7 linked regions of the Homo sapiens genome follow. Changing the gene in region 7 together with the main gene of any one other region gives a genetic interaction. Each region holds a gene or a part of one and is shown on either strand. Other genes may lie near its edges. The genes, in order: POMC, MAP3K4, ERBB2, CDK6, PRKAR1A, CDC25A and FGFR3.

The links.
Region 1: changes in FGFR3 (region 7) and POMC together harm fitness more than expected from each alone (negative genetic interaction), as found in Homo sapiens cells (one large-scale study listed by BioGRID).
Region 2: changes in FGFR3 (region 7) and MAP3K4 together harm fitness more than expected from each alone (negative genetic interaction), as found in Homo sapiens cells (one large-scale study listed by BioGRID).
Region 3: changes in FGFR3 (region 7) and ERBB2 together harm fitness more than expected from each alone (negative genetic interaction), as found in Homo sapiens cells (one large-scale study listed by BioGRID).
Region 4: changes in FGFR3 (region 7) and CDK6 together harm fitness more than expected from each alone (negative genetic interaction), as found in Homo sapiens cells (one large-scale study listed by BioGRID).
Region 5: changes in FGFR3 (region 7) and PRKAR1A together harm fitness more than expected from each alone (negative genetic interaction), as found in Homo sapiens cells (one large-scale study listed by BioGRID).
Region 6: changes in FGFR3 (region 7) and CDC25A together harm fitness more than expected from each alone (negative genetic interaction), as found in Homo sapiens cells (one large-scale study listed by BioGRID).

The regions. Positions count from the first base shown.
Region 1 is NC_000002.12:25,159,771-25,163,174, forward strand, and holds the end of POMC (pro-opiomelanocortin preproprotein), read right to left. Parts: intron 1,983-3,404; coding exon 1,311-1,982; 3' UTR 1,090-1,310; downstream 1-1,089.
Region 2 is NC_000006.12:161,088,847-161,093,139, reverse strand, and holds part of MAP3K4 (mitogen-activated protein kinase kinase kinase 4), read right to left. Parts: intron 3,819-4,293; coding exon 3,669-3,818; intron 1,762-3,668; coding exon 1,600-1,761; intron 1,131-1,599; coding exon 997-1,130; intron 163-996; coding exon 84-162; intron 1-83. UniProt on the Homo sapiens protein: Component of a protein kinase signal transduction cascade. Activates the CSBP2, P38 and JNK MAPK pathways, but not the ERK pathway. Specifically phosphorylates and activates MAP2K4 and MAP2K6.
Region 3 is NC_000017.11:39,698,101-39,703,077, reverse strand, and holds the start of ERBB2 (receptor tyrosine-protein kinase erbB-2 isoform a precursor), read right to left. Parts: upstream 3,015-4,977; 5' UTR 2,840-3,014; coding exon 2,767-2,839; intron 289-2,766; exon of another isoform or gene 164-288; intron 1-163. UniProt on the Homo sapiens protein: Protein tyrosine kinase that is part of several cell surface receptor complexes, but that apparently needs a coreceptor for ligand binding. Essential component of a neuregulin-receptor complex, although neuregulins do not interact with it alone.
Region 4 is NC_000007.14:92,724,497-92,728,789, reverse strand, and holds part of CDK6 (cyclin-dependent kinase 6), read left to right. Parts: intron 1-2,996; coding exon 2,997-3,164; intron 3,165-4,293. UniProt on the Homo sapiens protein: Serine/threonine-protein kinase involved in the control of the cell cycle and differentiation; promotes G1/S transition. Phosphorylates pRB/RB1 and NPM1.
Region 5 is NC_000017.11:68,518,348-68,522,640, reverse strand, and holds part of PRKAR1A (cAMP-dependent protein kinase type I-alpha regulatory subunit), read right to left. Parts: intron 1-4,293. UniProt on the Homo sapiens protein: Regulatory subunit of the cAMP-dependent protein kinases involved in cAMP signaling in cells.
Region 6 is NC_000003.12:48,167,323-48,171,615, reverse strand, and holds part of CDC25A (M-phase inducer phosphatase 1), read left to right. Parts: intron 1-3,671; coding exon 3,672-3,770; intron 3,771-4,293. UniProt on the Homo sapiens protein: Tyrosine protein phosphatase which functions as a dosage-dependent inducer of mitotic progression. Directly dephosphorylates CDK1 and stimulates its kinase activity. Also dephosphorylates CDK2 in complex with cyclin-E, in vitro.
Region 7 is NC_000004.12:1,795,500-1,799,792, forward strand, and holds part of FGFR3 (fibroblast growth factor receptor 3 isoform 1 precursor), read left to right. Parts: intron 1-3,754; coding exon 3,755-4,024; intron 4,025-4,247; coding exon 4,248-4,293.

The sequences.
Region 1 (3,404 bases), on a different chromosome or scaffold from region 7:
GGATGCGAGACCTGTGAGGAGACCAACGAGTGTGAGGCAGCGCCTTCATCCGGGGAAACTTGGGAAGCAGGGTTTGGTAAGGAGAGAGTGCCCGTCTACAAGGGCCCTGCCCACCATGCTTAGTAGTTTGGAATTGACAGAAATTGGGGTGGGGGCACTGTTTTGACTCTTGAGCCTGGGACTGTGGGAAAAAGCAAGATTTTGTGTAAACTAACGTGAAGAATTCGTATATGATGGGCTGGGGAGAGCAGCTGGAAACTAGGAGACCAGTTGGTTGGGAAGCTGTTATCAGAGAGGCCTGGGGGAAGTACTAAGGATGAGAAGGGCTGGAGCTGAAACACGCGGGGAGGGAGGAGCCTGGGCACGGCAGGAGGGGTCAGAGGGCCTGAGTCAGGGCTTAAGCCCTAGGGGCTGGAAGAAGCAACTGCGTAGAGTATGTTGTATTAAACAGATGTGTGTCTCCATGAGTGTGTGTGTGTGAGAGAGACCGTATGTCTGAGCGTATCTGTGAGTAGCCTGGGAGTGAAATTGGAACTGATACTAACCCTCAGCTCTCACACTTAGCTTCTATGATAAAAAGAAGATTATGTCCATTTTCTCCTTTAATCTTCACAATAACCCTCATACTGGGAAGGGAGGGGTAGATGAAAGAACTAAATTTTGGAGAAGTTCAGAGACTTGCCTAAGGTCCCATGGATTGCTACGAGCAGTTCCCCGGAGACATTACCAAGACTTCTCACCTGACAGTCCAGAGCACTCCCAGGCGTGGGTAGGCCTCAACCTGTCCAACTGGCTTTTGGAGGTGGACCGGAGCCGGGGAGCCCCTGAGCGCCCGGGGTCACTCTTGCAGGAATCCTGCCTTTACACGTGTGCTAGCTGAGCAGTCTCCCACTCAGTGGAGTGTGTGGAAAATACGGCCATCCTAGAGGTGCTGGAGCCACCCTGTGCCTTCACCCAAACTATCTGATCCCTCGAAGATCCATTTGGGGGTGGGGGCAGGAAGCACATTTTCCTTTCACGCTCACTAAGTCCTGTGAAATATCCTACCGCATGGAAACCACTGTGCTCCTCCGATCCATGCTGCTGTTATTTGACGGCTACGTATTTTTACTTTATTCACACAGTTTACATTCAAAGTCAGAGGTGGATGTGAAATTTGAAAGGTTTTATTTCCTAACTACAGGCAGCTTTAAGAGGCTGATTATCTGCCACGACCCCCCAGGCTGGGAGGCGGCAGCAGGGCAGGGGAGAGCAAGGGGCTTTGGGGTCGACCTCCTGGGGGAGGGTAGCCCTGGGGCCCCGCTGTGCCCTCACTCGCCCTTCTTGTAGGCGTTCTTGATGATGGCGTTTTTGAACAGCGTCACCAGGGGCGTCTGGCTCTTCTCGGAGGTCATGAAACCGCCGTAGCGCTTGTCCTTGGGCGGGCTGCCCCAGCGGAAGTGCTCCATCCTGTAGGGGCCCTCGTCCTTCTTCTCGGCCGCCACCAGCAGGCTGTGCTCCAGGTCGGCCTGGGCCCCTGCGCCGTCATCGGCAGGGCCGTCGGGGCCATCTCCCTCCCGGAGTCGCTGGCCAGTCAGCTCCCTCTTGAACTCCAGGGGGAAGGCCTCGGCCGACTCGTCCTCGGCGCCGTTAGGGTACACCTTCACTGGGCGCCGCTTCTTGCCCACCGGCTTGCCCCAGCGGAAGTGCTCCATGGAGTAGGAGCGCTTGCCCTCGCGCGGGCCCGGCTTGGCACCATCGCTGCGGGGCTCGGGGCCGCCCTCAGGCAGCGGGCCGCAGTCTTCGCCCGCTGAGACGTCCTCGCGCTTCTGCCCTGCGCCGCTGCTGCCGCTGCTGCTGCTGTTGCGGCGGCCGAATCGGTCCCAGCGGAAGTGGCCCATGACGTACTTCCGGGGGTTCTCGGTCAGAGGCTGCTCGTCGCCATTTCCCGGGAACATGGGAGTCTCGGCCGAGAGGTCGGGCTTGCAGGCCCGGATGCACTCCTGGGGGAAGACGCGAGGGCATGAGGGCAGCCCGTGCCCCGCACCCCGGCCCGGCTGCCGCGCCCGTCACTGCGCCTAGGCCCTGGCCGCCCTCGCCACGTGCCGAGGACACAGGGCACAGTGTCGGGCGTGTCAAGCGTCGAGGCCTCCCTACAGAGCAGGTCTGCCCACCTGCTTTCTTGGCACTCGTGGGCATCTAAGATCTTGCCACTGCCTCTTTTGTCCCATCCCCTTCATGCTTCTGCCTGGCAACTGCAACACACTTCCCATCCCATTCCATGGTTTGTCTAGCCATCTAGCCACCCCTAGCTTTTGTGAACAGGACCAAAGTCTTACTGTTATATGCCTGACATAAAGGAGTGGCTCCAAGAAAGGCAGACGGGTGGTAGTTGTTGGCACTTAATGAATATTGAGGGCCGGGCACGGTGGCTCACACCTATAATCCCAGCACTTTGGGAGGCCAAGGCAGGCAGATCACATGAGGTCAGGAGTTCAAGACCAGCCTGGCCAACTATGGTGAAATACCATCTCTAGTATAAATAAATAAATAAGCTGGGTGTGGTGGCGGGCGCCTGTAATCCCAGCTACTCTGGAGCCTGAGGCAGGAGAACCGCTTGAACCTGGGAGGTAGAGGTTGCAGTGAGCCAAGATCACACCACTGCACTCCACACTCCAGCCAGGGCAACAGAGCAAGACTCCGTCTCAAAAAAATAAATAAATAAATAAAAAGAATATTGAATAAATACATATGGTTTAATTCAAGTCCAGGAGGGGAGTGGGGCTGAAATTTGGGGGATAATCTCTCCAGGTGATAGAAGTCTGGCTACTAGGGCCCATATTTTTAAACATATTTTTAATAATGCCTCAACCTGTGTGAACCTGGGAGGTGGAGCTTGCAGTGAGGGGAGATCGCGCCACTGCACTCCAGCCTGGGTGATAGAGCGAGACTCCGTCTCAAAAAAATAAATAAATAAACAAAAAATAAAAAATAATGCCTCAACCTTACCTCAGTGATGAAAAACCTACTTTATGCCCTACCCCAGCTCCATCTCTGCACTAAGCCTCCAAAACTGCACCTTGGTTCTTTCACGACTTCTGAGCTGATTTCTGAGAGATCCCCCAGTGAGCTCTGGGGCAAGCTTATTTCCCTGTAATCTCATTCTGACTGGAGGGAGGGGTGGAAAGCTAGCGTTATTTCCATTGCACCGTCTGTGGAACCTGTGTCTCTGCTCCTTGTCCCTAGAGGACTCTATTGTGGTACATATTAGCTTAGGAAAATGGCTGCATAGGCTGCAGCCTTGAGTTTTCAGTGATAAAAAGATGAAAAGCTCACTGGCTGCTCTCTTTCTTGGGAATAGCAAAGGAGAAAATAAAAGGATCCTACCCACTCTGTTGAGCTGGACATTGCCTACTCCAGGTGTT
Region 2 (4,293 bases), on a different chromosome or scaffold from region 7:
ATTACATATAAAACATATACAACCAGAAAATAAGGAGTGACTGGCTTATTTTATAATGAAAAAAACTTTAGAATAATCCATACCAAGAAGTCATCTTCTGGTAAAGCTGAAATAAAGGCAGGTTCAATTGCTTGTAGAAAATCAAATCCTTGAGTCGCCCACCTGGTACACGAAAAAGTTCAGTAATCACATAACAACCAAGAAAACGCTGTAGCAGTTTTAGACTGTACAATACTGAAAAGTAACATAATTATAATTACTATTTAGGACAAGACACTTTTTTTTGCTTGGGTTCAGTAAGTTTACAGCGTGACCTTTTGGAAAGGAGAATAATTTTTTAAAATTTAATTTTGTTTTGAAACCAATGGGAAGCATGGAAGAGGATTTTAGACATGATAGGTGCCATCTGTAATTCAACAATTATTTATTTGTAATTCAACAAGTATTTATGAGTTTTGTAACACAAAGTTCCTACTTTGAATCTCAGATGCAGCAAATGTGTTTTCTCTAACTTGGAGAAATTGCTTAATGACTTTAAGAAAGTGCCCCATGCTATCCCTCCATTACAAATTACAGAACACTCAGCTATTTCTCACACAGTCATGACACTTTAATAACTATGTTTACTTTAGTGGAGCTAGTATTGAGCCTCACAGACGATTCACCCATTTCACCCCTGCAAATTCCAAAATGGTTTCTTAATGAATAAATTTCATGAGGGAGGAAAATACATTAGTCATCAGGAAGACTTGTCAAAGGAGAACATGAGTTCCCTTAAAGGTAACTCAAATTTGGAACAAATTTAAAAAAAAATTTTTTCCCAAGAGTTACGCAGTTTTCTCTACATATTTTTCCATTAAAAAAAACCTGATCACCGAAGAGTTTAGAGTGTTCCCTTCTGTGTCGTCTGCTCAAAAAGAATCCCACAGAACATATATGAACAAATACCACCAAGCCCACATGACACATTTCAGAAACATCCTACTTGGTCATTACCTGGGTCTTGTACCTCTACCACTCTCACATTTAGTCAGGACATAATTCATCCACTTCCGGGCAAAGCTTATATATTTGTCTCCTATCTTCTGTCTAAACTCCCCAGACATCAAACGAACAACTTCTTTATGATACTGTAAGAAGATTTCATGTATATCAACATTAAGGAAATGATCATTAAATAATATCACACACTATAATGCCATGTCTAAAATGTTTTCTAAAAACAAAAAGTGAAATCCAATTAAAATTTCTATATTTTGAATAGTATGAAGAATTATGGAAAGTACAGTGTTTCAAAATGCAGTTTCATAAATGTTTTACTCCTGAGTTTAAATTAAGAATGTGCTTTTATGACATAAAACATCTCTTTAAAGTTTTAAAATGTAAGTAGATGGCTGTTAGCACAAAATAAAAGTTGGACAATTACCTAACAGTTTAAAAGTAAACTAACATCTCTGATATACAGCAGTGATATAAGATGATATTCTTGATTAAGCTATGATTACAATATCAGATTTACTGTAAAAGGTTCCAAAAACTTTCTGTAAGTTATCAAGCAATTACTAAATTGTACCGTGTTTCCTCTTATTTTGAACCTACCTCAAATCCAAAATTGTACCCCTGAATCATTGCTTCTCGGTAGTACTGTTGCAAGGTGACAGATTCAGATTCATCAACCTCAGCATCAAATTCTGATGTGAACATGTGGTCCACGCGGTCAATGGCATTGCTTATCCTGTTGCATAGCTCCAATGCATCATTCTGAAGAGTCCAAACCATGATTAATGCAAAATGAAGCAAATCATACAATACTTACCACATTTTAAAGGAAGATTTCGTTCATCATCACACAGACATTAACCACTACAAACAATTCAGCCACTTGGTAAAGGAATTACCAAATATAGAAGAAATTATGTCATTTTATTTGGCATTCTTAAATAGAAGAGAAAAAAATGCATTTAAAATGATACAGTCTAGTTATAATCTGCTCTTGGAATAGATGCTTTTATCTTCAATATTTTTATACATCAACCACCTGTTGTTTTCTCCTCCTGGACGGTTGCTCAACCATAAGTACGGGTGCAATTCCACAGAGTGAAAAAGTCCATGTACTTCTAGATGACCTCCTCCGATCGTGCTGTCCTCATTTCCCTGCTACTCCCTAGTCCAGGGGTTCTCTTCTGGGGCAGATTTCTCCCCCTCCCCTCAGCGTCTGGAGACGTTGTCCAGAGAAGTTTTTGATGGTCAAAATTTGGAGGAAAAAGTGGAAGTACTGGGATATGGTGAGTAGAGGCCAGGGATGCTGCTAAACATCCTACAATGCGCAGGACGGCCCTCCACGACCAAGAGTTACGGGCCCAAACGTCCACATCCAAGAGGCTGAGAAGCCCTGCCCTGGCTCTAAACATCCTACAATGCGCAGGGCGGCCCTCCACGACCAAGAATTACGGGCCCAAACGTCCACATCCAAGAGGCTGAGAAGCCCTGCCCTGGCTCTAAACATCCTACAATGCGCAGGACGGCCCTCCATGACCAAGAGTTACGGGCCCAAACGTCCACATCCAAGAGGCTGAGAAGCCCTGCCCTGGCTCTAAACATCCTACAATGCGCAGGACAGCCCTCCACGACCAAGAGTTACGGGCCCAAACGTCCACATCCAAGAGGCTGAGAAGCCCTGCCCTAGCTCTAAACATCCTACAATGCGCAGGACGGCCCTCCACGACCAAGAGTTACGGGCCCAAACGTCCACATCCAAGAGGCTGAGAAGCCCTGCCCTGGCTCGAGCTTTTGTCACCTCTGTCAGCAACATCACAATAGCTCCAAATCGGTCTCTCTCTCTACCCACCCTTACACACGAGTGCACACAAGGTCTCCATCAGGCAATCCCCTTACTATGGTTACAAAATATTCTTCCAGCAATCCATAGAGAGAGATAACCTAAATATTTAGTTAATAAATGTTTATAGATAAATCAGACAAATCAGACCAACAGAAGAAAAACAAGTGTTTACGAAATGACTTGTAACTTCAGAGAATGTTTCTTCTTCAAGAAGTTAAGCCTTAATGTGAGTGAGAAGACATAACTGATGGCCTGGAAAAGTGTGGATGAGATCAAGACTGATACATGGGATACAAAATAGAAAGTGTCAAAAACAGGAAATAATGGAAAAAGACAGCCAGGCTGGGGCTTGTCATAAACTTTGAAAGGCCTTTGTACTTCTCTGCAACTTTTTTCTATTATATTTAATTTGGTTGAATTATTTATTAAACAAAACAATAAATAAATCTTCTATTACACACTGCTGATATGGAGTACCTCTAGTAAATACTGGGGATTGTGAAAGGAGAATGAAATTTACACTGGGAATGAAGAGACCTAAATTATTAAATTTTCAACTTTGCCACTAACCAGTCATGTAGCCATTATGAATAAGTCACATAAAGTTCAATTCTCTATCCTTTCCAATTATAAAGTTCTACAGCTTCAGGAAGAATCTCAGAATATGTAGTTTAGACATAAGAAAATATGTATTGGGAAGAGAGGTGAGTGGGCAGGCAATTCAGGAGCTCAAGTTCCTTGGATGATATTACCTTACACACATTACCACACACTGACTTTCATCAAAAAGGAAAAATCTCAGCTAATGTAGAGGACAGTGTAATACCTTCAGCTGCTGCAAAGCTTTGGCGATGACCGGCTGACTGGATGTCTGCTCCTGGCACAGAGTCATAAGTCCCTCAATGGACTGCTGGAAAGCTTTTCTCTGAATTGTGAGATGCGCAGACTGCATGACAACTAGTAAAAGATTATCCACCTGGGAGGAAAATCAAGCACAGGACATAAAAACCAACCCAGTTACTAGTTGTTATTCTAGTTCAACACCAGTCCAAAAACAATGCCAATCTCAGGGATACCAGGCCAACAACCATCTAATCAGAAAGTCATTTTTAAGCAAAGCTTCTCCTACACAGCAACACGCTTCAGTGGGCATTGACAGCTGGGATATTCAGCACCACGGAGAAGAACCCTTTGGGACTGCAGGCATGACATCTTTGAGATATCCTAGAACTTCAAGTAGTTCAGTACTGCCAGTGCAGAGTGTGTGTGAGTGTGTGTGTGTATGTGTGCATGTGTGTGTGTATTGGAGCAGCATATGAAGAAGGAAAATGTAGGAATAAGACAGAAATAAGATGAGGGGCCTTATATAAAACATTAAGAAATCAAGACTTTATTACTTTTGTTCTTAAGAGATGAAGAATCTTTGCAGTATTTTAAGTAGATCTGTGATG
Region 3 (4,977 bases), on a different chromosome or scaffold from region 7:
CCTCAGGGCCCCCAGCTCAGCTCCACTTTCTACAGCCTAGAGAAGTGGATGGAAAGGTCATTCGCCTGAACAAGAGGAGCGCTTCTCCTCCCATCTGGCCACCTGCCTGCCCCTAAGGCTTTGTTCAACCCATTATTGTTGGCTGGAATAAGACTCTAACCACCTCTTAATGCCTCCTCTTCAGAGTCCAAAAATTCCCTGGACATTACTGGGTAGCTGGGAGCCTTGGATAAGTTGCTTCATTTCTCTGAACTTCCATTTTCTCATCTGTGCACCTACTTCACAGGACTGTCACAGAGATTAAATGAAAGCATGGATAAAAACCTAGCATATAGGAAGTACACCGTACATTTCTTAAAAGTTAAGACAAGACAGGTTCATACAGCAGGAATATGGGTAATCCCAAACCACGAGAAAATTAAACATGCTTTGTGTTTGACTTTGGAATGCCACGTATTTTTTCTTTTTACATTTGATCCCTATCTTTTCAATTGTTTTTTTCTTGACAAATAAAATGAGTACTTTCCCCAAGTATAGTAAAGAGAGGAGGCTGTTGGAAGAATCATACTGGAATTAAAATATGAAGGAGTTCTGCAAGATTAAAAGGATGTATTTGCTGCAATTTGTAAAACCCATACCTCTAAGAAAGGATTTCAGAAAAATCCTGACCCCTCTGGGGCTCCCCCTAGGCCTCCCCTTCCCCCACATTCCTGCCCCAGACCTCACCCCTTGGGTAAAATCTGGGTGCTGGAGGCAGCTGGGTGGTATACTTTTTTTCTGAAACGGAGTCTCACACTGTCACCCAGGCTGGAGAGCATTTGCAATCACAGCTCACTGCAAGCCTCAACTTCCTGGGCTCAGGTGATCCTCCTGCCTCAGCCTCCGGAGTAGCTGGGACTACAGGCACGTGTAATCACATCCAACTAATTTTTGTATTTTTTGTACAGAGTTTTGCCTTGTTGCCCAGGCTGTGCAATGACTTTTTAACTAACTCCTGCACAACACAATCAATAGTGCAGGTTGAGGGGTGAGGACATGAGGAGGCCCCATCCAGAGAACCCAGCCCTCAAATCCAGCTCTGCAGCAACTGCCATTCCCTGATCAACTCCCAGCCCAAGGTGAGGAAGGGCAGCAGCTCAGCCTGACAGCTCAGTATGGCCTCACCCTTCTCATCAGAAGATGAGAGGTGAAGATGCTTGTCTGGGAAACAGGGAGGGCAAGGATGTACTCCCTGGAAGAGAGGAACCTTCTTCCTCAGCAAGAAGGCGTGGCCATAGAAGGCTACCTCCCTCTGTTTATGGCAGATCTGGCCCAGCACCTTAAGGGAGTTCCTGCAGAGGACAGAGTTCAGCCTGTGTCCCCAAGTCAGCAGAGAGACTGCTGTTTGGCAACACAAAGCCCAGACACACAAATACAAAGACCACACAACTGAGGAACACCCTGGCGTAGACCTGCAGAGATAACACGGCCATGCACTCACTCACAGAGGGCCCCTCGGGCAACACACAGCCACGATGACACCCACTCCCTCCCCAGACCCTCTGACCTATGGAGACCACCCACGACTCCCAGAACACTTTCATTTTGTCTCCCCTGCAGCCCAGTGACTCAGGGAGCAGTGTCCCTCATTGCTCCAGGTGCACTCATCCATATAGCGATTTCGAATGCATGGTTGGGGGTCGCACTGCCTGGGGTCCCATCTTGACCCCACCACTTACTAGCTGCTACTCAACCTCTGGACTGCTACTCAGTCCAGAATGCTGGCAGAACTTCCACTATAGGGGTGTTCTAGGATTAAAGGAGAATGCATGCAAAACACCACAAACAGTTCCTGGCAGAGTATACCTGGCCCAGGCTATATGTTAGCTTTTATGATTAATGCACACAGGTGGACAGATGGGTCAGGATACACACTGCCCCCACTCACCCTTCCCCACGCACAGCACCAAGGAAAAGGCAGCAGAACAACGCAGCCCTCCCTAGGCTCCCATCTGGCCTTATTTCTTAGCTTCCTTCTCTGGGAACTCTCCCACTTTACACCCCAAGAAACCCACCCCCACCCCTCCATGGTCCACGCGCTCCAAAAGTCACAGAGCACAGTCCCTAAGCTGGCCCCAAGAATCTGTTCAAAGCAAACGTCTCCCCCGCCCCCAACCCAGACCCCAGCAAGAGGCCACCCTCCGGGCCACCCTTTCCTCCCCGGCTCTGGTTGGGACAGGTTGCTATGCCACCCTCCACTCCACCACACACACACACACCCGACCCCGCCAGAAGCAGGAGCAACCAAACCAAAATCGTCTGAAGGGGAGCGGGGAGGGGCTGGAGGAGGGGCAGGGCAGAGGACCCCCCCAAGGAATCCAGCCCAGGCCAGTCCGGAGGCGGAGGCTGCCAACTGGAAAGGCTTTGAGAAAGCTTGAGGGGGCTCAAGAAGGGGGGAAACGCGCGCGCGCGCTCTACGCAATACACCCTTTGCGGGAAAACTTTCTGAACAATTTCAGAGAACTTCTTTGACAAGTTCCCGGAGCCCCTCGGAGCCTGGAAAGCGCCAGTCTCTTGGATGGGCCATCTCGAGCCGCTGCCGTGTAACTGCCCCCTCCCGCCCGAGGGCCCCAGGGCCCGGCTGCCCTGAGCGTCTCGACTGTCCACAACTTCGGGATAGGAGAGCTCGTCCGGGCCCCTCTGGCCCCGCCGGCCGCGGGACCTCGGCGGGGCATCCACAGGGCAGGGTCCCGCCGCTGCTCCGTCCCCTCCCCACACCAGACCCACCTTGGGTGCTCGCGGCTCCGGGGGGCAAGAGGGCGAGGAGGAGCCCCCAGCGGCACAAGGCCGCCAGCTCCATGGTGCTCACTGCGGCTCCGGCCCCATGGCTCCGGCTGGACCCGGCTGGGAGGGCGCGGGGCGCGGGGTGCTGCGAGGGGTGGGGGCCGGGCGCGCGGCGCAGTAAAGGGCCCCGTGGGAAGGGGCGCGCGGCTGCCCGGGGGGCTCCCCTGGTTTCTCCGGTCCCAATGGAGGGGAATCTCAGCTTCACAACTTCATTCTTATACTTCCTCAAGCAGCCCTCCTCCTCCACCTCCTCCTTCTCCTGTGATTGGGAGCAAGCGCGCTCCCAGCTCGCCCCCTCCAACTGCATTCCAACAAGTCTGGGAGTGGCAACTCCCAGCTTCACTTTCTCCCTCTCTTCGCGCAGGCCTGGGTGCGTCCCTCCTAGCGCCGGGACGCCTGGGTTGCCTGCAGCCGTTCTCACACTTTTCCTCGGAGAATCCCTAAATGCAGAGGCTGGTGACTCTGCCCCCTCCCCCGGAGTCCGGGATAAATTCCCTAGGCTGCCACTCTTAACACCCTTTTAAGTCTCAGGTTTTATCTTAAACTTTCCTGGGGAGCTTGCATCCTACTCCATCCCAAGCCTATTTGTTTTAATATCAAATAATGGTTTTCCCACCACATCCTCTAGTAAAATTGATAGTCAAGGAGGGGGATGTGTTGTGTTTACCTTGTGGCTTCCAGGACCCCCGGGGCATATCTTCTGGAATCTTTGAAGTATCTGAAAAGCATGATCTTAAGAGGGTCTACAAATTTGGGAGGAGACAGTCACATCGAAAGGACTTTTTTTTTTTTTTAAACGAACTTTTGCTCTTGTTGCCCAGGCTGGAGAGCAATGGCGCGATCTCTGCTCACCACAACCTCTGCCTCCCTGGTTCAAGTGATTCTCCTGCCTCAGCCTCCCGAGCAGCTGGGATTACAGGCATGTGCCACCATGACCAGCTAATTTTTTGTATTTTTAGTAAAGACAGGGTTTCTCCACGTTGGTGAGGCTGGTCTTGAACTCCCAACCTCAGGTGATCCTCCCGCCTCAGCCTCCCAAAGTGCTGGAATTACAACCACGAGCAACTGCACCCAGCCCAAAAAGACTTCTATCTCAATTCTTCAAAATGCACCCTTCTTGCTTATTTAAGGAGGCACCCAGCACCCAATGCATTCAAGGTTTCTTCTTTGCCCCTTGCCTTCTATTAGCCTGCTTAATTCCACTTCTCAACCACATTCTATTTGGAGCCCCTGACCCTATTCCTTAGGCCTAGTGGTAGGGGTGGGGATGGAAGGAAGACTTTTTTTTTTTTTTTTAATTTCAACAAGATATTGCATGGGACATATTTATACTAACAAATTATTCATTGTTTATCTGAAATTCAAATTTAACTGGGCCTCCTTATTTTTATGTGCTAAATTTGGCAGTTCTAGTTGGAATGCCCCAGCCAAGAATGCAGCTATACTGGTCAAGAAGGGATCAAAGGCACCTATCAGGGACTGGAGAATGAAGGACACCAGCATCTCTTTCTCTCTTCCCTCCCCCCCATCTCCCACACCTCTTTACAGGTATACACTTGCATTTCTAAACTTGCTTCCATGTGCTGAGCACACTTAAAGCAGGCACCTCTTGTGGGACAGGTTGCTATGCCATCCTAGGGAGTTGAGAAACAGGGGCCTCTGGGACCAAGAGGACCTGGGTTCAAATCTTGAATCTGGCCAGTCGCGGTGGCTCACACCTGTAATTCCAGCACTTTGGGAGGCCGAGGCAGGCAGATCACGAGGTCAGGAGATCGAGACCATCCTGGCTAACACGGTGAAACCCTGTCTCTGCTAAAAATACAAAAAATTAGCCAGGTGTGGTGGCGGGTGCCTGTAGTCCCAGCTACTCAGGAGGCTGAGGCAGGAGAATGGCGTGAACCTGGGAGGCAGAGCTTGCAGTGAGCTGAGATTGCGCCTCTGCACTCCAGCCTGGGAGACAGAGTGAGACTCCGTGTCAAAAAAAAAAAAAAAAATCTTGACTCTATTCCATATCAGTCATGTCACCTTGGGCAAGTGACTGAGCATCTCTGGTCTCAGTTGGCTCATCTGTAAAACAGCATCTGACATACTATGCTGGGGTTAAAGGAGATAATGCTCTGGAAGCACTCAGCGCAATACTTGGCACATAATAAT
Region 4 (4,293 bases), on a different chromosome or scaffold from region 7:
AAGCCATTTGCTAAACAAAAAAAAAATTTAAGTAGCCTAATAAAATCTAAAGAATGGTCATTCTTATGTAGAACCAACTTACATCTATAGGCATCATACACATGGAATCAACGTTAGTGCAGTCATGTGGATTCATACTGCCTAACCCATGCTTTGGTATGATATTAACAAGCCCTTTTAATCTACTCTACCTTTAAACAAACAAGAACTAGACCTGTAGTATAAGTGCCAAAGTAACACAACTAAAACTGAATAATAATAATTATGGCATGTCCCAGGGTGAAAAACCATGCAGCCATTAAAAATCTCATTGTATAAAAAAAGTCATATTGCAGAATTTTATTAGTGGCAAAATGTTGATAATGAATTGTTACATGTTTTTAAAAGAGCTACAAAATAATGTGTACAGAATAATAACCACTTTTACTTAAATATACTTATACATCCAAATATAATAAAATACGTAATTTTTAAAAGACAGACTAAAAAGACACAAAAAAAGTTATATTAACAGTGAAGTTTTCTCTGTTCTCCAAGTAGTGGAATTTTTTAGTGATTTTTCTTCTTCTCTGGATTCTTAAAACATTTTATTAGTTTCTGCATTAAGCATGCATCTATACATCTTAGCAATTTTATAATTAAGAAAAACATAGTGTGTGTTATAACACAAATAAAAACGATGTGCATGTTTTTAAATTTGTATACTGCTAATTGGCTGCTAAAGTTGTTTGAACACTGCAGCATGAACCAAACAGATTTATTCTTTATACTGTTTTAAATGAGTGACACTTAACTGTATAGAGGCTAAAGATGATGAGCCAACAGGACATTACTTTAGGTTAGTCATGCTTTTTAAAATTCAGTGCTTACAAGTTGTGTGCATGTGTTTCCAATAAAGACTTATTTGCCAAAATGTTCCTTGAACATTTTGTGCTACATTTTCACACTCCTGTTTATTCATTACAACTTATTGGACCTGCAGTGCTTCTCAAGTCTTGAAGGGCTTTTCCTCCCCAATGCAGTCTTCTCCAGGGTTTTGGGAAGCTTAGAAGGTCACCCCTGCCAGTTCAGAATATTCACTCAGGGGGATCTCAGAAATGATTCTAGATCACTGCATACCCCCTCTAAGTGCTTTGTTCACACCGACCTTGTAGCAGTGGTCATGTTTTCTTTTAGTTGTTTGTGAATCAGTCTCCCCCAGAAATCAGGACACTTATCTTGGCAATAATCATCCTAATAATTACTGTTTGTCAAGTGCTTACCATATGCCAGAAACTGTACAAGCACTTGGCATACATTACTTCATTTAGCCCCCTTAATAGTAGGAAAAGTAATCGCTACTTTCTCCACTTTATAAAAGGAAAAACTAAGGCTTTGGTTTTGAACAAGCTAAAATATAAAGACAGAACTCCGAACTCTAAAGGAAGAACCAAAACCATAAACCAGTAACCAAATATACTGTTCTCGATGAGAGGATTCAGTGGTCCGGCCAATGATAAGTGTATCCTCACAGCCCCTTCCAGCTCTGAAATCCATGGTGGTACCCAGTCATTTTTCTAACCCTTGTATTAACAAAACAGCTCCATCCTCCCTTGTATACACCATTCTTATAATATTTGGGTCAGGGGAGTAGGTCACTCTTAATTTCCACACATTTCAGAGGATTATGACATCATGGCCAATGTCTTAGTTCCTACCTTCAGACACTGTCCCTGAGTATTAAATCTTGTGTATATTTGTATTGGTCCTAAAATTAGAAAAAGATCTGATATTGGTTTATATCCTGAATGATCCGCTCCTCCATACTGGTTAATAATAACAGTAATAAGCGCTGCCATTTACTGAATATTAACTATGGTGCTAAGTGCTTTACAATGATCCTATGATAAAGTGGGCTTTGTTACTGTCCCATTTTACAGACAGGGAAACTAAGCCTTAGAGAGGTTAAATGGCTTGCCTTATTTTACGTATTCATTTGTTCATTGATTTGATAAAGGAATACATTGGAGATTTGAATCGAGGTTTTCCAGACCCTAGTTTAAATCAAGACTCTGTTAATATTCTAAAACAGTTGATTAAGACTGGGCATGGTGGCTCACACCTGTAATCCCAGCACTTTGGGAGGCTGAGGCAGGAGAATAGCTTGAGCCCAAGAGTTTGAGACCAGCCTGGGCAACATAGTGAGATCGCATCTCTGCAAAAACTAAAAACATTAGCCTAGCATGGTGGCATGCACCTGTGGTCCCAGCTACTTGGGAGGCTGAGGCAGGAGGATCTCTTGAGCCAAGGAAGTCAAGTCTGCAGGGAGCCGTGATCACAGCACTGCACTCCAGCCTGGGCAACAGAGCAAGATCCTGTTTAAAAAAAAACAAACAGTTAATCAGCACTCTCTTGCTAGTATGACTTTGGGCTAATTAGTAGCCTACATCTGTGTATCAGTTTCTTGACCTGTAAAATGGTGTAATGATATTATTTACCTAAATGTTGTGGTGTGGATTAAATTATTTACTAAGTGGACAATGCTTAGAATAGTGCTTGATATATAGTGAGTGTTTAGTACTAGGTGCTATAAAATAATAATCACCATTAATAACAATATTATTATTCACTGGATTTTAATTGTTGAAATGGCACATTAAACAATAGAGAAGCAAAAAGTGTCCCCTCACGACCTCCTCCTTCCTCTCCCCAGCATGAGCCACTGAAACCAGTTTGGCAGATATCCTTCCAGAATGTTTCCTATTCCATCAAAAACTATTTTAAAATTGTCCTTTCATTAATAAAATACAGGTTGAGAGTGAAATTTTTTGCAGTGTTCTTGAAAGTGTGGGAGTGGAAAGGCAGGAAGGGAGACAATTCACTCATTCAGCCAATACCTGTCAAATGCCTGCCGCATGCCAAGCAGCCACAAAATGCTAAGGATTCGGCGTCCAGCATAGCAAATGCTCAACTTCCGTTTTGAGTGTTTACTGATTTTCTTTTTTTAATTTTATTAGGATATGATGTTTCAGCTTCTCCGAGGTCTGGACTTTCTTCATTCACACCGAGTAGTGCATCGCGATCTAAAACCACAGAACATTCTGGTGACCAGCAGCGGACAAATAAAACTCGCTGACTTCGGCCTTGCCCGCATCTATAGTTTCCAGATGGCTCTAACCTCAGTGGTGAGTGAGAGAGTGCTGTCCTTTTATTAAACTTATTTTTCCTATTTTGAATGACAGTCTGTCCCTCTTCCATGTCTCTAATGTTAGTACTGCCCATGACTAGTTGGTGGATAGAATGTCTTTGCCCATTTTTATATGGCAGTGGGTAGGCAGAAAGCATTCTGCTTACAGCTACAGTCACATCCAGCCTGGGCTTGTTGTGGACAGGATCCATTGCAGAAATAGCCTGTTGCATCTTAGCCACTGGACAGGAATCAGTTACAAGTTTCCAAATGCTTTCTGCCATAACCACTGTTTTCAGAGCTGTATGTACAATGCCTAGGGAACACACAGCTCAAGGTCAGGGAAGAAAGAGCACGAGCAACGTTGACCTGTCTGCAGCATCATGGTTTTGAGAAACAGAGTGCCTACACAGGTTTGTTAATGCACTCATCTGAAGCTATGGTGCCAGCTGTAAAGAAGAAATCAAATTCACAGTGAACTTGGATGATGCATGAACGTAGAGCACCGCCATGCCAGGTGAAGGCTCATATAACCCTGAATAGAAAGAGCGAACCCAACGGCCCTGTTTTGGCAAAAAATAACAGTTATGATACCCTGTTTCTTTTTGCCATTCAGCTGCAAAACCATAATAGCTATTGACATTGGTTAGCTTCTATTTCTCCATATAGTTCATTATTTCTCAGATGGATTTTTGTGAAATTCTGCACCCCAAATACAAAAAGAGCAGCCTGGAAATAGGTATTAATACCCTTCTCTTTGAAAGACCTGTTTTGCATACAGTAAATTCATGCCTTACGTACAGTAAATTAAATAAATAATATATAGCAAATTAAGTCTTAAGAAAAAGAATTTTAAAAAAGAAAATATCTTTGTATATTCAAAGAAATAAAAAAAAATAATCCGTATTGTCCATCTTTAGCCTCAAAGTGGTTCTCACATCAGGGACAGCATGGCCCTGTTGTTAAGTAATGATTGGCAACATCTTTGGTCATTCTGCACAGCAAAAAATTGTTTCCCTAAATTTCAGTAATACTACAGCTGATAAGTAGAAATTCAAGAGAGGAGTTAGAAATTCTCTGAGACAGATAACTTGCCTTAGGAAAAAATCCAATTTATAAAAGTGTTC
Region 5 (4,293 bases), on a different chromosome or scaffold from region 7:
TAAGTTAAGAGGAAAACACCAATTCCAAAGGGGAAAAAAAGAGAGTAACACTTGAAACACTCTCAACAGAATGTACCTCAGATGATAACAGATGCTATCCTTTATTAATGGGCAAAAGTCATTAGTACAAGCCATTAGTACTCACATAACATGTGAGTAACAAATCAGATATTCATTAATGTCTTGACAACAATTATCTGTGATGCACACAACAGTAACACACTGCAAGACAAAATCCTGAAAATTGGGTTTTTTTGGATGCTACTGCAGATAGCAAGAGACCCTCCTGCCAAAAGAAATGTTATCAGGAAAAACAATTCAAGCCCAACATAGTGATCCAAGAATGTCTAGATTACTGAGTTATTTCATTAACTCAATAAGCCATTTTCTGGATCTGCCAGGCCAAGACCTATGCTAGGCAACAGGAAATTAAAAACAAATAGGAGAGGGTCCTGAGCCTGTGGAATTCACATTCCAGTTTGATCCCAGATAAAAACAAATAATGAAATGATGTGATGGTAACCACGAATTTAAACGAGATCGTATCTATAATACTTCTCCCAGCAGAGCTAGGATCACTCTTTGTAATCAAGGTTTAAACTTGAAGTTAAAAGACAAAAAGAGTTTACTTGCTTTTAAAAACTACTTATTGGACCAATTCAAATAAAACCTAAGATAAACTATTAAACATTCCTTTTTTCACATCTAGAGCCTTAAAAACAAATTCCTCTCAGATCTAAAGAATTAGTTGTTGTGCCTGAAGTAAAAGGGAAAAAATAAAAATGTGTTATCTTCTACTTTCTCATTCATTTGACCCGTTATTTCTTTTCTATATATAAATTTGTAAGTGCCCATATATTAATCTCCAGAACATTGGCAGCATTCAAGAAAAGCAATGGCGTGGGAGGGAGACCTTTCATTATTATGCCCCTTTGTACCTGCACAACTTTGAAATATGTGAATATGTAACCTACTTTTTAAAATATGGTTTTTAGAAAACTCATTTCATGTTAATTCTGGTTGTTCCAATAACCAGTAAGGTTTTCTCATTTCATATTAACACAGGTATAAAACTCAAGTCTCTCCCAAGTTTAAAGTTTAAGAATACATGACTGGGTACAGTGGCTTACGCCTATAATCACAACCCTTTGGGAGGCCGAAGGTGGCAGATCACTTGAGTCCAGGAGTTCGAGACCCGCCTAGGCAACATTGTAAAACCTCATCTCTACAAAAACACATAAAAATTAGTTGGGCGTGGTGGCACACACCTGTAGTCCCAGCTACTTGGGAAGCTGAGGCAGGAGGATCACCTGAGCCTGGAAGGTAGAGACTGCAGTGAGCCATGATCGCACCACTGCACTCAGGCCTGGGCAACAGAGTGAGATCCTGTCTCAAAAAATAGGCCAGGCATGGTGGCTCACACCTGTAATCCCAACACTTCGGGAGGCCAAGGTGGGCAGACCACAAGGTCAGGAGTTCAAGACCAGACTGGCCATTATGGTGAAACCCCATCTCTACTAAAAATACAAAAATTAGCCAGGTGTGGTGGCAGGCACCTGTAGCCCCAGCTACTCAGGAGGCAGAGGCAGGAGAATCGCCTGAACCCAGGAGGCAGAGGTTGCAGTGAGCCGAGATTGCACCACTGCAGTCCAGCCTGGGTGACAGAGCAAGACTGTCTCAAAAAAATAATAATAAAAATAAAATAAAACACACACACAGTTTAAGAGTATAAATGAAAACACAAATTCTCCCACCCCCAAATTTGTCACTGACATTTCACAAAAATTTCAGGAAAAATTTCACAAATAACATTTCACTTGGGACTACATTCTACTTCACTGAATTTTTAAGATTAATTTTGAAGTAACAAAAGCATTCTGATTTTAGCAGTGTCTCATGGATTCTAGTGAGTCTTTTAAAAACAGCAATCTGAATATAACCTAATCTGACAACTCAGAGCCATTACTCAGATCATGAGTTTTCTAGTATATACTATGATATATTTTTATATCCTTTCTCTTGCTGTTGTCATCCTTCTGTCAGTCTCCTTCCTCCTCAGCTCTTTAAGTGAGGTGATGAATAACCTAAATACCTTGACGTGATCATTACACATTCTATGCCTGTAAAATATCACATGTACTCCATAAAAACATACAAATGTTATATATCAATAAAAAATTAAAAATTAGAAAAAACCTCCCAGTCTACTCAGTGGTTAATTATGTTCTTGACTCTGAGGTTCAAATTCTGCATTCGGTTTTGCATTAAATTCTGCACTATCTTCTTGACTCTTAGGTTCAAATTCTGTCCCCACTACTATGTTTTCCCGATTATTTGTTCCCTCCCTGCTTCTGTCACTCTTCCCTGTGGGTAAAGTATACTTCCCACCCCACTGACTTAAGGCTTGGCTACAGGACTTGCTCTGGCCATGGAATGTAAGTGGACATGCCATACCATGGTTGCCTGTGTGGTTTGGCTCTGTCCACCTTGAGCTTCTGCCCTCCCTCTGCTTTGAGAACAGCATGCCCTATATAGGGCTGCTCCTTCTGCTCAGCCCCAGAACAAGATATGTGGTGTCAAGAACATAAGACAGGCTGATACCAGAAGAACTGCACATGACTGGTCTGTTGTAGTAACCACTGAAATTTGGGGGTTGTATGTTGCTCCAGCAAAAGCTGACGACTACAGTCTATAACCACAGCCACATTACTTAATTTCTCTCAGTTTTACTGCTATGTCTATAAAATGCTGAAAATCACATACCTCGTACATTTGAAATAACGAGTATTTATGTATATAAAGTGCTTCACACAGTACCTGACACAGCAGACACAAGGTCACTGTTATTTTAATTCCTCTTACCTAAGGGTCTAATAAATACAAGAGTAAAAGAAGACTCAAATTCCAGATGACTGAATTAAAATGCAGAAGCTTTCAAAAGACCAACTGTCAAGAGTTTTTGGTACATTTCTTATGGAGTAGTTGAAGGTAACAGAAACACAACCCCCCAGTAATGACGAAGAAGGTGATGAGAATATGACTGTATTTTCAGACTGATATGGTTTGGCTGTGTCCCCACCCAAATCTCATCTTGAATTATAGTTCCCATAATCCCCACATATTGTGGGAGGGACCTGGTGGGAGGTAATTTAATCACAGGGGTGGTTACCTCCATGCTGTTCTGGTGATAGTGAGCTCTCATGACATCTGACAGTTTTGAGGGGCTTTTCCCCCTTTTGCTTGACCCTTCTCCTTGCTGCTGCCATGTGAAGAAGAATGTGTTTGCTTCCCCTTCTGCCATGATTGTAGCTTCCCGAGGCCTGCCCAGCCATGAGGAACTGTGAGTCAAACCACTTTCCTTTATAAATTACCCAGTCTTGGGTATGTCTTTTATTAGCAGCATGAGAACAGACTAATACAGTAAAATGGTACACAGAGCGTGGGGTGCTGTTACAAGGATACCCAAAAATGCAGAAGCAACTTTGGAACTGGGTAACAGGAAGAGGGTGGAACAGTCTGGAGGGCTCAGAAGAAGACAGGAAAATGTGGGAAAGTTTGGAACTTCCTAGAGATTTCTTGTACGGCTTTGACCAAAATGCTGATAGTAATATGGACAATGAAGTCCAGGCTAAGGTGGTCTCAGATGGAGATGAGGAACTTGAGAACTGGAGTAAAGGTGACTCTCGCTATGCAAAGAGACTGGCAGTATTTTGGCCCTGCCCTAGAAATCTGTGGAACTTTGAACTTGAGAGAAATGATTTAGGGTATCCGGTGGAAGAAATTTCTAAGCAGGAAAGCATTCAAGAGGAAGCAGAGCTTGAAAAATTTGCAGCCTGACAAAGCAATAGAAAAGAAAATCCCATTTTCTGGGGAGAAATTCAAGCCTGCCGCAGAAATTCACATAAGTAACAAGGAGCCAAATGTTAATCACCAAGACAATGGGGAAAATGTCTCCAGGGCATGTCACAGACCTTCAGGACAGCCCCTCCCATCATAGGCCCAGAGGCCTAGGAGGGGAAAATGGTTTCCTAGGCCATGCCCTGGGGCTCCTGTACTATGCAGCCTCAGGACATGGTACCCTGCGTTCCAGCTGCTTCAGCTCCAGTCTTGGCTAAAAGGTACAGCTCTGGCCATTACTTCAGAGAGTGCAAGCCCCAAGCCCTGGTGGCTTACAAGTGGTGCTGGGCCTGTGGGTGCACAGAAGTCAAGAACTGAGGTTTGGGAACCTCCCCCTAGATTTCAGAAGATGTACAGAAATGCCTGGATGCCCAGACAGAAGTTTGCTGCAGGGGC
Region 6 (4,293 bases), on a different chromosome or scaffold from region 7:
CGAGGTCAGGAGTTCCATACCAGCCTGGCCAATATGGTGAAACCCTGTCTCTACTGAAAATACAAAAAATAGCTGGGTGTGGTGGTATGAGCCTGTAATCCCAGCTGCTCAGGAGGCTGAGGCAGGAGAATCGCTTGAACCCGGGAAATGGAGGTTGCAGTGAGCAGAGATCACGCCACTGCACTCCAGCCTGGGTGATAGAGTGAGATTTCATCTCAAAAAAAAAAAAAAAAGAATATTCATTTTCTTTTTCTTTCTTTTTGAGACACGCTGGAGTGCAGTGGCAGGATCTTGGCTCACGGCAACCTCCGCCTCCCCAGTTCAAGCAAGTCTCTGCCTCAGCCTCCTGAGTAGCTGGGATTACAGGTGCCCACTGCCACGCCTGGCTAATTTTTTTTGTATTTTTAGTAGAGGCGGAGTTTCACCAAGTTGGCCAGGCTGGTCTTGAACTCCTGACCTCAGGTGATATATCCGCCTTGGCCTCCCAAAGTGCTGGGGTTACAGGTGTGAGCCACTGTGCCCGGCCAGAATATTCATTTTCTTTTACCGTAATAGAGATTGACCTTTTTATTTCCATATTTGTAAAACTTTTTTTGGATAAAATAATACTGTTAATAATTATTTTGTATATATATTGGCCCTCATGTTTTGGTTTATTTTCATATATTTTAATTTTTAGTATTTTAAATTCCATTGTGGAGAAAATGTCAAGCATTGCTAGAGTACAGTTATCATACCTGTGATATTGTGAAATATATATTTAGTCTTCTTCCCCTTCTGTCATATAACTCCTAAAATCTTTGGAATATCCAAGGTCATATCTTTTTGTATACTAATGATTGATAGCTTCAGGGTGGGACTGGTCACTGGAAAGACAGAGACATGATTAGAGGTTGGAACTTTCAGCCCCACCCTCCAATATCTACGGAAAGGAGAGGGGCTAAAGGTCAAGTTGATCACTCATGGCCAATGGTTTAATCAATCATTTCTATGTAATGAAGCCTCCCTAAAACCTTGAAAGGACAGGGTTCAGAGAGCTTCTGGATAGCTGAACACATGGAGGTTCCTGGAGGTTGGGGCACCCAAGGAGAGCATGGCAGCTCCATGTCCCTTCTCCCATACCTCACCCTATGCATGTCTTCTTCTATATCCTTTGAATATCCTTCATAATAAACTGGTAAATGTGTTTTCTTGAGTTCTGTGAGCCACTTCTAGCAAATTAAACCCAAAGAAGGGGTCATGGGAACCCCTACTTAAAGCTGGTGGTCGTAGATCAGAAGATCCAGAGGCCCAACTGGTGTCTGAAGGGTGGTGTGGTTTTGAGGACTGGGCCCTCAACTTCCTGATCTGACGCTCTGCAGGTAGATAGTGTCAGAATTGAATTGGACGGCACCCAGCTATTTTCCACTGCAGAACTGCTTGCTTGCTTGCTTGCTTGCTGGTAGGGAGAAATCCCCTCATATCTGGGGGTAACAGCACTTCTGTCTTCTGTTGCTGTTGAGTGAGGGAATAAGAAAAATCACTTTGAGTTTGTGGGGTGTTTTCCTCACACAAACATATCATACAGGGCTAAATTTCTGGGTGTTTTTTTGTTTGTTTTTTTTTTTGAGACCAAGTCTCGCTCTGTCGCCCAGACTGGAGTGCCATGGGTCGATCTCTGCTCACTGCAACCTCCGCCTCTCAGGTTCCAGCAATTCTCCCGCCTCAGCCTCCCAAGTAGCTGGGACTACAGGCGCCCACCACCACGCCTGGCTAATTTTTTATATTTTTAGTAGAGACGGGGTTTCACCATGTTGGCAAGGCTGGTCTCGAACCCCTGACATCAAGTGATCCACTCACCTCGGCCTCCCAAAGTGCTGGGATTACAGGCATGAGCCACCACGCCCGGCAGAGCTAAATTTCTTACTATCAAATGTCAAATATCCAGTCTGGGTTCAGTTTTCCCCAGTTGTCTCCTAAGTACTTTTACAGTTTATTTGTTAAAATCTGGATCCAAATAAAGTCTATACACTGTAGTTGGTCAATAGGTCTCTTACTCTTCAGATTTCAGTGCTCCATCTGTTTCCCTCTTGCATATTTTTATTTGTTGAAGAGCTCAAGTCATTTGTCCTGCAAAGGTTCCCACAGTCCTGTGGGGTCTTCAGACATTGTCTTCTATCCCCTATATTGCCTTAACCTAACTCTGGAAAGGATGGATTGAATTCCAGTTCTATTTGTTTGGCAAGAATATCACATAGGTGATTTTGTCTACTTTGATCAGGAAGTATAATGTGCCAGGCAGCCATTGGTGATTGCTGCCCAGATTTTTTACTTCATTTCACCAGGGTTTCAGAAAGATGATACTGCAGTTTTTACATTCTTTCCTCATTAATTAGCTAGAATATATCTATAAAGAGAAACTTACACTCATCAAACACTGTGGTTACCCTTGGGAAAGGCAGGATGAATATTGGATCTCTTTATTTGCCAGTTTCCAAATAATGCCCTACCAAGCATCTTCCAAAGTTGAAAGCAAGACTTATAGTTGTTTTTCAATAATAATCAGGAATTCATGGGTTAAAACATTTAATGTGTTTCTGTGTATTACAAGTATTATCCTTTTACTCAAATTATCCCCTTTTTAACAGCTGGCTTCCTCTTCTCATTGAATAAAGCTAAGACGTAGGCCGGGCGCGGTGGCTCACACCTGTAATCCCAGCACTTTGGGAGGCCAAGGCAGGCAGATCACCTGAGGCCAGGAGTTCAAGACCATCTGGCCAACATGGTGAAACCCCGTCTCTACTAAAAATACAAAAATTAGCTGGGCGTGGTGGCGCACACCTATAGTCTCAGCTGCTCTGGAGGCTGCGGCAGAATCGCTTGAACCTGGGAGGCAGAGGTTACAGTGAGCCAAGATCACTGTACTCCAGCCTGCACTCCACTCCTGTACTCCACTGCACTCCAGCCTGAGCGACAGAGCGAGACTCTGTCTTTTTAAAAAAAAAAAAAAAAAAAAGTTAAGACATACTTTTTCTAAACTTAATCCTAGTTTTAACCCCCCTTGTTTCTTTCTCTTTTTCTGGAGATAGTTTCAGTCTGTCACCCAGGCTGGAGTGCAGTGGCACCATCACCACTTGCTGTAGCCTCGACCTCCCCAGGCTCAGGTGATCCTCCCACTTCAGCCTCCCAAGTAGCTGGGACTACAGGCACACACCACCATGCCCAGCTTGTGTGTGTGTGTGTGTGTGTGTGTGTGTGTGTGTGTGTGTGTGTGTGGACAGGGTCTTGCTCTTTGATCTGGTCTGGAACTCCTGGGCTCAAGCGATTCACCTGCCTTGCCCAGGCTGGTCTGGAACTCCTGGGCTCAAGTGAGTAACCCACCTTGGCCTCCCAAAGTGCTGGGATTACAGGCATGAGCCAAACCACCTGCACCCCCTTTTTTTTTTTTTTTTTTTAAGGAAGGAAGGAAAACTTAGTTTCAGAGCAATTCGGTTAGACACTGGAATAATAGGAGACCTAGTCAATAACCCACATCTGTTTTTGTTCACTCCAGATTCAATAAAATAAAATAAAAACTTCTTACTAAATGTAGGCATTAACATTTTAGTCTCCTCGAGACATGCTCCAAGTGAATGTTTTCGGAAGTTCCATTCAGAACCCTTGTCTCATTCTCTACCTTTGATTTGTTACAGACTCTTCATCAGTCTTTATCCCTGGCATCTTCCCCCAAAGGAACCATTGAGAACATTTTGGACAATGACCCAAGGGACCTTATAGGAGACTTCTCCAAGGTAATTGCAAGCAGAGCTGCTCTGGCAAGTGTAGGAGGGAGTGTGGGTATTTAGAATCCCACTCAGCCTGTCTCCCTCCCCAGGGTGGTTCCTGGCATACCTCCAAAAGGACACAGTTAAAAGAATGTTAAAGGTAGGGAAGCAAACTTAGTTTCTCATGATCAGGTATATGTTGGTTTCTGAGACTGTAGATATCACTATAGCTGATGGGCAGTTTTAGGTAGGGAGCTGTCCACCAACCACCTTGATTGTAACCCAAAGACTAGGCTCTCTGGGAACTGTGTTATTATAAAAATAGTAATTAGCAGGATAGTGTACAGCAGAAATAAATCTGTAGCCACACTACAAGTCTGCATGTTGAAAGGTTATCTTAGAAGGTCTGGGATTGAGACTGAATTTCTCCGTTCAGAGAAGCTTGGCCATTGAGGGAAAAGACCCTCCAGGAAGTCTAGAGGAAGATCTTCTAATAGCCTGATATACTACATGAAGGCTTGGCTGCAGTAAAATACAAGGCTAGGACAGG
Region 7 (4,293 bases):
TTAATCCGGTTCCTTAACAAGATGGGCCGGGCAGTAAAAATACAAAGACCTCGTGAAATGGACTGAGGTCTAGGCTGGCGCTTGCCCGGGAACATAAATTATGGAGCCTTGGCTCGCAGGGGTCAAGGGCGGTGGGAAAGGTTTTGGCCACTGGACTGCCCTGGCCACCCCAGGCCCTGCCAGGACAGCCCCCATCTCCCCAGGGGGCCGTATTCCTGGTTGGGACCTGGAGTGACCCCCCAGGGTGCAGGGAGGTACACAAGGTCGGCTCTCCCACAGTCCCACCCCACCCAGCAGGGGTCTGGGGGTGCAGGGCCTTTCCCGAAGGTGCTGGCTGCAACCTCCCCCACTCCTCCTCTGCAGGGCTGGACTTTGAGCCGCGTGGGCCTCTGGGTGGTTCATTAACCTGGGCTGAGCCTGGCCTCCAGGTCCTTGTGTGAGCCTAGGAACCCCTTGTTACCCACCCCCCAGCTCCCCAGCCCTCAGGTCTCACTTGGGGCTAGATCTGGGGCTGTGGCACCCCTTGTTACAGCTGAGCTTGAGTGGGAGCCCAGGGGCTTGGGGTCTCCTGGAGGACGGGGATCTAAAGTCACCTCATCTAGGGAGGCATGCAGCCCTCACCTGAGTGATTCAGGAGTGAATGAGCCAGGAGTGGAGCCACCTTTGGTGGGGTAGGGGTCAGCCTGGACCTCTAGGCTGCCAGCTCAGGCTCGGGTGCCCTCTTCGAACCTCAGTTTCCTTACCTGTCCAAGAGAACCGATAATGGCAGGCTGTTTGAAGGATTAGGCCAGATAACCCTGGCAAGCCCTCTTTAGCCTGCCCAGCCTCCAGATCCCTTTTTTCCGGACTTTATTGTGAAACTCCAGGTGGGGAGACAGGGAGGCTGGACTTTTGGGGGCCCCCTCCTCTTAGGCTATTTTATAGCTCCTACCTGGCAATACCTCCTGTACCCCAGAGAGCTGCAGAGAACTTCATGTGCATCCGAAACCAGAATGTGTTGTTTCCTGACCCCAGGCCCTCATCTCACCCCAAAACCCAAATAAACCCCTGGGGCAGCCAGCTCCGGAAGCGAGTCTGGATTTGATCCTTGTTCTCTGGGGTCAACCCGAGGGGCTTATGATGGAGCAAGGCTCCCCCATCCTCTCAGCCATGCTCCCTCACATGCACTGGGCCTCCACTGCAGAGACCCAGAGCCTGGAGAAAGGTTCCCCAGGCCAGAGTTTGGCCGTCCCCAGCACCCTGCCTAATGGACATCAGTCTTGGGGCCAGAGACCCAGGGCAGGGAGCGCCTCTCACCCCTACCCTCACTCCTGCAGCCATTTCAGGGCCTGGTGCCCTCCCTGAGCTCCTGGGCCTGTGGGGTGGGATTTTTACTTTGTGCCACAGTGGGGGAAACTGAGGTACAGGACCAGTGAGTGGCAGAGTTGTGGAGACTCTGGGACACAGCAGAGGGCTGTCGTTGGCATGTGGAGCCCAAGTTGAGGTCGGCACTGTGTGGGGTTGGGGCGCCGGCAGGAGCACGTGTTGTGGGATCCATAGAAGGGTGGGAGGTGGGACGCGTTGCCTCCTACCCCGCCTTGGGTACAGCAGGAGTTTTGTCTCCAACGTGTTTGGGCACCAGTGTCTGTGTGGTGTCAGTGGGGCCTCCCTTTTGTGGATCAAGAAAGAAAGAACCCTTCCTAGGGCTGCTGGGGGGCTATAGCTCTCCCCATGCCTGGCAGCTGGGTGGGGTATGGGGGCTCCACCCAACTGCTGACTTCCCAGTGGGAGTCAGACCCTGAACTTATAGCACCCACTCATGCCCCGTGTCACACTGTCCTTCACCTGGTGCTCGCCACCCAGCCCCTGCTGGGGTACCCTGGCCTCTGCTGGCACCTAGCAGGCAGGCAGTGGGGGGGGCAGTCAGGGCTGCACCCTCCCCACCACACACGGGCAGATGGCCACTGGTGTGGCTGGCCTGGGGCTGCTGTGTCCCCCGTCCCCCCGTGCTGGACCAGGCTGAAGCAAATACTTGTGTGGATGGCTTGACCTGTTGTCGCCACTCAGACCAAACCGGAACCAACCGGCTGTTGCCCTTGGGCCAGGGCCTGCAGCTGAGGCTGCCATAACCAGCCTGTTCTCGGCCTTCTGGGGGGCCTCGAGCAGCTCCCAGCTCTGGGTGGTCCCCACAAGACACTGGCCAGGACCGGAGGGCTGGAGGTCAGGCCAGGAGCCCCCCTGACTGCGGGGTCCCTACAGGGGCAGTCCTTGAGCTGTGGGTCCCGGTGGGGCGAGGGCTCCTTCGGATGCTTCAGGGGATGAGTGTGGGCCCTTCTGGCTGGCAGGGTCACCCTGGGCACTAGGCGTGTGTGGCTGGATCAGGTGGGTTGGGCAGAAGAGGGCCTGGCCGGGCAGCCAGGGACTGGTGTGGCCAGAGTGGGCAGCTGGGCCCCCGAATCTAGGCCACGCGTCTGCAGAATGACAAGTGATGGCGCAACCCGCCCAGCTGGGTCTGAAGAAGGAGGCTGCCTGGGGGACCACCCACCCCCGTCCCGGCCCCAAGCCCGGGACGCCTGCCTGCATGCATTGTCTGGCCCTGGCAGGGAAGCCTAGGGGCGATTGTCCCCCCAGCCCTGCCCATGGTGTGTCCTTGGGTCACAGGCTTTGGTGGCTCTGGGGAGCTGGGCAGCTACTGGGGAGGGACCCAGGGGCCACCTGCACATCTGCCCCTGTGGGTGGGCCCCCACCCCAGCTTCTCAGCCCCCAGGGAGGGGCCAGGGCTGCTGACCTGCCCTGGCTCTCACAGCTTCCTGCCCCCAGCCTGGTCGTCCTCTGTGAGGGGGCCCCAGTCCCCCTGCAGGCAGCAGGACTCCACCCCCCGGCCCCCTTGAGGGCCCGCCTGGGCCTCCCCACTCCCCGGCCTGTGAGACCCACTTGGCCGGACCCAGCGCCGTGTTTGTACTTTGCTCTTCTCGGTATGTTTTCCGTCATGACCGCCGTGTGGAGCTTCCATAGGAGCTGCAGGATACAGAACCTTGCCCACCCCAAGGAGCCCCCACCCCCGCCCCGGCCCCCTCGCGCTGCTCCGGCCTGTGCTCTGACCGGTGAACCCGCGCATCGCCCCCCAGACCGTCCACACGGCCACGTGACCCTGCACCTCCTTCCTTCTCGCCTGTTCTGTTCCCTGGCTGTCCATCTGAACTGCTTTTCAGGCTCATATGGGGTGCGGGGGCTACTGAGGACGGACCCCTCCTGGGGTGAATCTGCACCACGAGGGGGCTGGCTGGCCAACCCTGGCACCCCCTCTGAGCTCCATTTCAGTCAGAGGCCAGCAAAGGGCAGCCTGTCCCCTTTGCCCGCAGCACCTGCCCGTCGTGGTGCCGCCTGTGAGACAAGCATGGATTTTATGTTTCCAAGCAATTGAACAAATTAAAAGAACGAAGAGTCACATTTTGTGACACTTTGAGATTTGAATTCTCCGTGTCCATGAGTGAAGCATCATGGGGCCACTGCTGTGGGGTTGGCTGCAGGTTGTGTGGGGAAGGCGGCTGTCACACCGAGGCAGACCGGAGTCCTTGGGACAGACTGGTTGGCAAAGCTGAAGATAGAGACCTTTGGCCCTTTTGGGACACAGTTTCCAGCCCCTGGTCTGGTGGGACCCTGGATCTGGGTCAGAGCCTTCCTCACTCAGGGCCGCCGAGGCTTCCACTGCTGTGTCTGTAAACGGTGCCGGGTTTGGGGGTGCCTGCCTCATGGTTGCCCATCTTCCCCACAGAAGTCCCGGGCCCAGAGCCCGGCCAGCAGGAGCAGTTGGTCTTCGGCAGCGGGGATGCTGTGGAGCTGAGCTGTCCCCCGCCCGGGGGTGGTCCCATGGGGCCCACTGTCTGGGTCAAGGATGGCACAGGGCTGGTGCCCTCGGAGCGTGTCCTGGTGGGGCCCCAGCGGCTGCAGGTGCTGAATGCCTCCCACGAGGACTCCGGGGCCTACAGCTGCCGGCAGCGGCTCACGCAGCGCGTACTGTGCCACTTCAGTGTGCGGGTGACAGGTGAGCTCTGGGGCCACGCCAGCTACAGAAAGGAGCCGAGTGCCGGGCTCCCTGAGTCCCTGCGTGGGTCAGGAGCGGCTGGGGGTCTCTCTGGTCATTGGTGGAGAGGAGGGCACCCCCAGGAAGTGCTGCCCAAATGGGGGACCCTGCCCCATCTGGGAGGGGCACCTGGGGGCCTCCTGGGGCAGGTTGGGCATTGGTTGCGGCCATCTCTGCCTTGCAGACGCTCCATCCTCGGGAGATGACGAAGACGGGGAGGACGAGGCTGA